Regions from separate parts of the Homo sapiens genome. Here region 2 is linked to region 1. The links come from fine-mapping of genetic effects on gene expression. A gene starts in region 1. The other region holds a variant in brackets. All regions are shown on one strand. Distances are from middle to middle. Region 1 holds the start of MTHFD1 (methylenetetrahydrofolate dehydrogenase, cyclohydrolase and formyltetrahydrofolate synthetase 1). Region 2 overlaps MTHFD1 (methylenetetrahydrofolate dehydrogenase, cyclohydrolase and formyltetrahydrofolate synthetase 1).

Region 1 (4,389 bases):
AAGAAAAAGAAAAGCTTACGAAATTCCTTTTAGCAAGTAGTAAGTGCTGGTTAGAATGAAAAACATCATATACTGGGTGAAGACCTTAGTTTTAGTTGAGCCATTGCCATTCACCCTTGGACAAATCACATCACTTTTCTGGCCTCAAATGATTTCCTAATCCGCAGGATGGAATGTGGGAAGTGGGCTGGATTTTTAAGAAATTCTAGGACCGGTGCAGTGGCTCATGCCTGTAATCCCAGCACTTTGGGAGGCCGAGGTGGGTGGATCACATGGGGTCAGGAGTTACAGACCAGCCTGACCAACATGGTGAAAGCCCGTCTCTACTAAAAATACAAAAATTAGCCGGACGGGGTGGCACACACCTGTAGTCTCAGCTACTCGGGAGGCTGAGGCAGGAGAATCGCTTGAACCTGGGAGGTGGAGGTTGCAGTGAGCCAAGATCATGCCATTGCACTCCAGCCTGGGCAACAAGAGTGAAACTCTGTCTCAAACAAACAAACAAACTAGCTGGACATGGTGGCGGACGCCTGTAATCCCAGCTACTTGGGAGGCTGAGGCAGGAGAATCGCTTGAACCCAGGAGGCAGAGGTTGCAGTGAGCCGAGATCACGCCATTGTACTCCAGTCTGGGCGACGAGTGAAACTCCATCTCAAAAAAAAAAATTAGCTAGGCGTGATGGCGGGCACCTGTAATCCCAGGTACTCAGGAGGCTGATATGAGAGAATTGCTTGTATGCAGGAGGCAGAGGTTGCAGTGAGCCAAGATTGGACACAGCAAGACTTCATCTCAAAAAAAAAAATAGATCTCAAGGCAGCAGCTACCATGTAAAAAAAAAAAAAGATAATGAATCATTCATATATACATTAACTAATTACTGATTATTAATACAACATATATCGAATACTTATTATGTGCCAGGAAGAATTATAAATGATCATCTGTTAGGAACCCATTTAATTCTACTAACATCCCAATGACCTAGACATTACTTTTACTTAACATTTGAGGAAACTTTGGCACAGAAAGGTTAATTAATTTGCTTAAAACCACACAAGTAGTAAGGCAGGAAACAGGGTTTCCAGGTGTTTAGGATATAGACAAAAATAAGACAATACATGTATTTGCCCTTATGGAGTTGATAAACATATTTAATTTGCTCTCCAATTAACGAAAGTATATTCAGTGAGCACCTATTCTCAGTACTGGCCCAGATGCATTATTATTGTACTAAATTATCTGCACTATTATTATGCACTAAATTATCTCTTCACAATCAGTCTTTCTAAAAGGAAGATTTTTATATTAAAACAAAAAGCCACTGGAAAAGGAAGTAAGTTTGAATACAAGCAAACAAAAACAGAAAGTAAAGCAGAAATACAGTTTAGCAAGCCACATGTTGAAAAGCACTAAGCAGTAAGTATTGTGATTTCTTTTTTTTTTTTTCTTAGACGGAGTTTCGCTCTTGTTGCCCAGGCTGGAGTGCAATGGCGCATCTCAGCTCACTGCAACCTCTGCCCCCCAGGTTCAAGTGATTCTCCTGCCTCAGCCTCCCAAGTAGCTGGGATTACAGATGCCTGCCACCACACTCGGCTAATTTTTTGTATTTTTAGTAGAGATGGGGTTTCACCATTTTGGATAGGCTGGTCTTGAACTCCAGACCTCAGGTGATCCACCCACCTCGGCCTCCCAAAGTGCTGGGATTACAGGCATGAGCCACTGGGCCCGGACTTTTCACCACCGATGACTTTGTAATTCACTCAAAAACCTATTACAAAGTTAGGAGTTACAGGACAATTACAATTTAGTAACTGCTGTGGCTGGCAACAGTTACTTACATAACGGGTGATGTGAAAGGTCCCAAGAGCAAACTCAGTAAGGTCACACAGAATATATCTTTCCCTCCTTCATCTACTAGAGGGAATATATTTTTCCCTCTTCCTTCTACTCTCATTTTTCCTCACCAGTCACCTCCCAGACAAAAAGCAGCCAGTGTTACTTCCTGGGAGTAAAGCTGGCAACGATACCCACTAATTAAGCATTCAGATGTCCCGCAAGGGTAGAACAGGCAGAGGTCAAGTGGAATGCAGAATATTCTCAGGACTCAGGAGCCAAATTACGTTTCAAGTAACTCTAGGACCAGGGCAGAGAGATGGCTGTTAGAGAGAAGCACGAGATTGAAGAGAAAGGAAAAATGTATTAGATTTCACTTAGCGTATGATAAGACTATGGTATAGTGGGAAAAGCTATGAGCTGGAAGGACCCTCTGTCATTATCAGCCTTGTAGTCTTGTCAAGCCTTGTCACCTCACTAGTCTCCATCTACTCACCTCCAAATTAACGGGAATTAAGTAGATTGGATTTCTGAGTTCTGACTAGGGGGGCTCCAGGAAGCCGCAACTACCCACTCTCCCGGCAGAAAGTCACCAGCAGCTGCGCGTTTGGGAGCATAGTCGGCACAGGACTTTTCCCCGAAGCACAGGAGCCAGCGGCTACAGCCACTAGGCAGTCCACTTGCAAACGCAGGTTGTGCCCGGGTTCTCTTTCTTTGGCTGCAGGTCTTCAGGTGTTATGGGCCTAACTCTTCCGCTACAAGTGTCCCTCCCGCAAAAAATGGGTCCGGGGGACCTGCACACCCTCAGAGCCCTCGTCCACAGCCCCACACTCAACAACAATGTCAGGTGCTTACGCGGAGATCTCCTTCCCGTTCAGGATTTCTGCTGGCGCCATGGCCTTTATTAGTCCGCTGCCCACGATGGACACCACCAATATCGAGGTTCCACTCCCTCCGCAGCCAAGCAGGACAACCCAACCCACGTGCTTAGGGACTGGCCAGGGGATCACACTACTGCGCCTGCGCCCCTGCCCGCTTCTCCCCCTGCAGACGCGGTGGCGCATGCGCAGTTCGGAAGGACCCGAGTCCCTTAACTAACCGAGAGCTAACAGGTCGGGGACTGCGGGACGGAAGAGGGAGGGGAAGATGAAGAAAATCGGTGATGAATGGCTGGCGGAAATGATTGGCGGAAAGAAAGAGCCAGTTCACAGTGCGCCTTTGTATTCGGCGGGAAACCCGGCCGAAGAGGGAGCTGGAAAGGACTCCGGAATCCGGCCGTAATTCCAGCCAATCAGGGAGTAGAGTTGCGGGGCGGGGTTGGGGCGGGGCAGTCTCGCGGGAGATAGTTTCGCGGGTTCGGGAGGCGAGTCTCCGGTTTCCGCCCAGTCTCTGGGGACGCGGTGGCGGGGTCTGAATCGCCTGGCTTCCAGGGAGTTTTGGGCGGGTCCCCGCACGGGAGCGTGGCAGGCGCTGGACTCGACAGCAGATGTGGAACTGGAGAGCTTGGCGCGCCCTCATACTTTGTCACACACCTACGCCACCAGACTGGGGTCGGGCCCCTCCGCGTTCTGCTCTGGAGGGCCTGGGTCTGGGCCCAGCATAGCGCTTTTAGAATCTCCTCAGCTGAATCTGACGCTCAGCCGTAGGTGAAGCTTAGCCCGCTGTTTCAGGCCCCGCCGATCTGGAAGGAGTGTCAGAGCTGGAGCGCGCGTGGCCTCATCGGTGTTGGGGTCACCCCGGGGTTGCCAGGGCTCATGGAGGGTCGTAGTCTGGATTTTGTCACCCCCACGTCCCCGCCCCGCAGCAAGTCTGGGGTTGGAGAACTCACGCGGTCTTCGTAAGCTACATGCCAGTTGACCCTCGAGGAGGGATGCTCCCTCCCCTTAAGCGTCCACGCTGGAGAAGGAGTAAGATGGACAATTGCCTGGGGAGCCTGACAGGGCGGTGGCAGCTGGGATGCTGGAGAGGACTGGCCCCTTGTGTTACTGAGTCCAAGGAATATGCTTGCTCTGCTCTAGGAACCGCGTTCAGGTTACAGTCATCCCAGTAGAGTCCTGAAGATGCGTGGTTCAGGTCACTTAGGACTTGACCAGATACCGGGTTTCTTTTACAAGCCGTTTACTACTGGCAGAGCTCATCTAAAACTTTTTTTGTTTGTTTGTTTGAGACGGAGTCTCATTCTGTCGCCCAGGCTGGAGTGCAGTGGCACGATTTTGGCTCACTGCAACCTCCGCTTCCCGGGTTCAAGCAGTTCTCTGCCTCAGCCTCCCGAGTAGCTGGGATTACAGGCACCACCTAATTAGCCCGCCACCACGCCCGGCTAATTTTTGTATTTTTAGTAGAGACGGGGTTTCACCATCTTGGCTAGGCTGGTCTTGAACTCCTGACCTCGTGATCCACCCGCCTCGGCCTCCCAGAGTGCTGGGATTACAGGCGTGAGCCACCGCACCTGGCCTAAAACTGATTTTTTATTAATTTTGGGGCTTTTAATATTTTTTTCTTATTTCTAAATTCTGAGGTTATTTATAGTAGCCCCATATACGGGATTAGATAATC
Region 2 (4,389 bases), 38 kb before region 1:
TGGCTCATGCCTATTATCCCAGCACATTGGGAGGCCAAGGTGGGCAGATCACAAGGTCAGGAGTTCAAGACCAGCCTGGCCAATATAGTGAAACCCCATCTCTACTAAAAACACAAAAATTAGCCAGGCATGGTGGCACGCACCTGTAGTCCCAGCTACTTGGGAGGCTGAGGCAGGAGAATTGCTTGAAACCAGGAGGCGGAGGTTGCAGTGAGCCAAGATCGTGCCACTGTACTCCAGCCCAGGCAACAGAGCGAGACTGTGTCTCCAAAAAAAAAAAAAAAGGTGGAAGGGTGAAGGTGTTCCCGGTGTCAACATTTGTAGTAATTGCTAGAACAAGCAAAATGTGATACCCTCACCAAGCAGAGAAAGCTAACTCTAAGAACCTATCATAATTAATAAACATTATTTTAATTAAGACAGCAGCTTGGCACGGTGGCTCATGCCTATAGTCCTACCAGTTTGGAAGGCTGAGACAGGCAGATCACTTGAGGTCAGAAGTTCAAGACCAGCCTGGCCAAAATGGTGAAACCCCGTCTCTACCAAAAATACAAAAATTAGCCAGGCATGGTCATGCGTGCCTGTAATCCCAGCTACTCGGGAGGCTGTGGCAGGAGAGTCTCTTGAACCCAGAAGGTGGAGAGGTTGCAATGAGCCGAGATCACACCACTGCATTCCAGCCTGGGCGACAGAGTGAGTGAGACCCTGTCTCAAAAAAAAAAAAAAAAAAAAAAAAACACATGTTCTTAGTACCGCAGCAATAAAAATCTGAAGGTAAAGTGCGAGTATGGTAGTAATTTAGAGCTTGAAATAGACATGGAAGAATCACTCTGGTACTTAATACAGGTGCCTTTGACCAAGCCACCTCTGAAGTCCCAGTTGCTGCTATTTTAAAATGGTGACAATACTATCTCGTACTGGATGATAGAATAATATGCAAAAACTGCTCAGCACAATATCTGGCACAAAGCATATATTCAATAAAGGTAGGCTTTTCTTATTCCCAACAAGGTGAAACATCTGTGGGGTTTGTCATTGTCTCTAGAGTGTCTGTAAGATGATCAGTAGCTATGATTACCTTTATGGTTACTGTAGCAGTGGACTATGAGGGTCAAATAAAAGCACCTCCAGCTACATATCACCCATCCCAGAGAATCCCTGTGCAGTGGCCAACAGTGACAGCAGGAGCTGGGGAGATCCAATGACAGCCTTCATCAAAAGCATGACTACAGAGGTTTGTGAGAATGACATTCCTGGTGTTGAAATGAGTTGAAGACCCCATAAGTATCATAGGTTGCGTGGGCCTGGGAGGACTGAAGGAGAAGCAGGTCCCCTGTCACCACCCATGGTCCAGTCTCACTAGTACCTTTTATTCCAAAGGTGGGGCCCTGAGAAGGCTGTCGCACACACGCAAAGACATTCTGGTAGAGATGGGCACCAAGGGCTTGCACTAGCCCGATTGTAGTTGTGCTTTTCCCTTCTCCCAGGGGTGTTGGAGTTATTCTTCAAGACGAAAGCAAAAGAGAAAAAGGTTTAAAGAATTAAGTGTATCTGAATCACTAAGTCATACCTAGCAGATCCTAGAGAATGACTCGTAATCTAAAGATTAAGAAAGACAAAGTCAGGCATAGCAGTGTATGCCTGTAGTCCCAGCTATATAGGAGGCTGAGGCAAGAGGATCACTTGAGCCCAGGAGTTCCAGGCTACAGTAAGCTATGACTGCACCACTGTACTCCAGCCTGGGCAACAGAGCAAACCCCCATCTCTTAAAGAAAAAAAAAGAAAGAAAAGACAAAGAAAAAGAAAGACAAAAGCCCTGAAAGATATCTTTTTCAAAAGTCTTAGTTGTAATTTCCAAAAAACTTTAAGAAAAAAAATGATTCCTGTATTTTAGCTCTTCTTGCTGTAAGAAGCAAATATACTTTATCTTGTAGAGACACGGCTATAATTTTAATTTCTCATTTTATATTCTCAAAAACTAGCTTTTTAATATAACCTCAGCCCAGCAATAAAAATGAATGCTTAGTAAATCCATCGAATTAATGAATTTTGGGTTCAAAAAGGTGATTCTGGCCGGGTGTGGTGGCTCACGCCTGTAATCCCAGCACTTTGGGAGGCTGAGGTGGGTGGATCACAAGGTCAGGAGTTCGAGACCAGCCTGGCCAACATAGTGAAACACACTCTCTACTAAAAATACAAAAATTAGCTGGGTGTGGTGCCTTGCACCTGTAGTCCCAGCTACTCGGGAGGCTGAGGCAGGAGAACCGCTTGAACTTGGGAGACAGAGGTTGTGGTGAGCCGAGATCGTGCCACTGCACTCCAGCCTGG[G/C]CAACAGAGCGAGACTCTGTCTCAAAACAACAACAACAACAACAACAGCAAAAGGTGATTCTATCTTAAGACCGGGTTTTAAGACCAAACTCTTCCACTTACTAGATGGATAACCTTGACCAATTTTCTCATCTATGATTATAATCTATTCTTACCTACCTCTCAGGATTGCTGTAAGGATCAAATGAGATCAAATACGGGTGAAAATGCTAAAATCAAATTAAAGGCACCTCTACATACATGTGCCAAGTGCAAATGCAACGCCTTAGTATCAGGACTGATACTAAGATTTGGATGGCAACATGAATAAAAAGCATACCCAGTCACCACCACGTATTTCCCATCAGGCCGGTGCTTCAGGCGTTCTAGTGCTGACAGCAGAACTTTGGCCTTTGTTTCACCATATAATTCTACCTCTTCAGACAGCAGACCAATTTCTCGAGCCAGCTTACCAATGGGCTTCGGTTTACAAGATCGTGATATATCAATGTCACTTTGGAAACATAGAAAATAGGTATTAATGTTTATCCACTGAGTTTAATTAATCCCACAGTAGTAACAAGCCCCCAACCCAACCCCAACCACTGAAGGCACCTTCAGAGGGAGCATATGTGAACCCACAGTATCTGTCAACTAAAAACCAACAATTCACAAAGTTTTAAATCAGTAAAACTTTATTTTTACCTTGGAACAGGTGTCTTGAGGTTAAGGTTGTTATACTGAATCATCCACTTTCCTGGCTTAAATTTCTCCAGGAAACGCTTGGCACTCTCTACTGTGCTCTAAGCAAAATGAAATAAATGAAACTTAGAAGAGGTGGTTATTTTAATCCTCACCTCAGTTTCAAGCTCCAGGTCACTCCAGTTCAATCACAAAATGAACTGCTTCAGACCCACTTATTACCATGCTTCAATCCTAGCTAAGAGTCAAGAGGCACCTAACATGCTTTGGGGCTGCTCGCCTGGCCCCTGTCAGCTGGTGCATGTTAGAAAGGGAAAACAGGCCGGGCACGGTGGCTCACACCTCTAATCCCAGCACTTTGGAAGGCCAAGGTGGGCGGATCACCTGAGGTCGGGAGTTCCAGACCAGCCTAACCAACGTGGAGAAACCTGTCTCTACTAAAAATACAAAATTCGCCGGGCGTGGTGGTGCACACCTGTAATCCCAGCTACTCAGGAGGCTGAGGCAGGAGAATCACTTGAATCAGGGAGATGGAGGTTGCGGTAAGCCAAGATCACACCATTGCACTCCAGCCTGGGCAGCAAGAGCAAAACTCCGTCTCAAAAAAAAAAAAAAAAAAAGAAAGGGAAGGCAAACCAAAACAGACCTGGCCAAGCCAGTGTGATCGCACTTTTCTTCTTTCAAAGTTATTATATTCCAAAACAGACTGGAATTATGCCATCCCTACTTTCCTCTATTAATGTGCCTGATCTTATTTCTCTATTCTTCCCTTCCCTTTTTCTCAATAAATTCACATCTTTACTTCTGAGTAGGTTTTTGACATTTCTACTTGGGGAGAAAAGCAGCCAAAACTCGATCAGCTTTTCAGAACTCTTATAGAAACTTTTATTCACAATTACCTGCATGAGCATTGCAACTGTCATGGGCCCTACGCCGCCAGGAACAGGAGTGATGAAGCTCGCCCTCTCTTTGGCCTCGTCGTATGCCACATCACCCACAACTTTTCTCCCATTTGGTTTTTTATCATCTGGTCAAGTGGGGGAGAAATCAAAACTAAGTCTCAGAATCACAGTCCTGGTGATCAGTTACGACAAAAACTCAGCAGAATTGTAGGGTGTGTTAGTCCCATCAGGCTCCAGTGCCTACTTAACTTAAAAGCTATGGAATGACAGATGTTTGCTATTTCTTAGGGAGAAAATTATTTTACCTGCAAAAATTCACAAGATGCATAAGTGGTTTTACAGAACCTGGAGAATCCTTTTGTAGTCTCTCAGGTGGCAAATAAAATACCAACTGTTTTTTATTCTTAAAACCAACTACCCAGTATATAATGAGCACCCATTTTAAAATGTTAATTTGCTAAAGCCTACAAAGGAAATT

Evidence for each region. PIP is the estimated chance that this variant, and not a neighbour inherited with it, causes the effect.
Region 2: its variant is the best candidate, but not a certain one, in a credible set for the expression of MTHFD1 in lung (TOPMed, PIP 0.85).

The regions. Positions count from the first base shown.
Region 1 is chr14:64,386,768-64,391,156 of GRCh38, reverse strand. MTHFD1 (methylenetetrahydrofolate dehydrogenase, cyclohydrolase and formyltetrahydrofolate synthetase 1) reads right to left here and starts at 2,804. Exons shown (of 28, transcript NM_005956.4): 1 at 2,689-2,804. The coding sequence starts at 2,729. RefSeq lists enhancers at 2,952-3,041, 3,562-3,621, 3,642-3,741.
Region 2 is chr14:64,424,451-64,428,839 of GRCh38, reverse strand. It overlaps MTHFD1 (methylenetetrahydrofolate dehydrogenase, cyclohydrolase and formyltetrahydrofolate synthetase 1), which reads right to left. Exons shown (of 28, transcript NM_005956.4): 9 at 3,909-4,036; 10 at 3,013-3,110; 11 at 2,648-2,821; 12 at 1,367-1,503. Among named protein-coding and RNA genes, the nearest start is that of MTHFD1, 38 kb to the right of the region's middle. The variant G/C (reference allele first, on the strand shown) is at 2,329.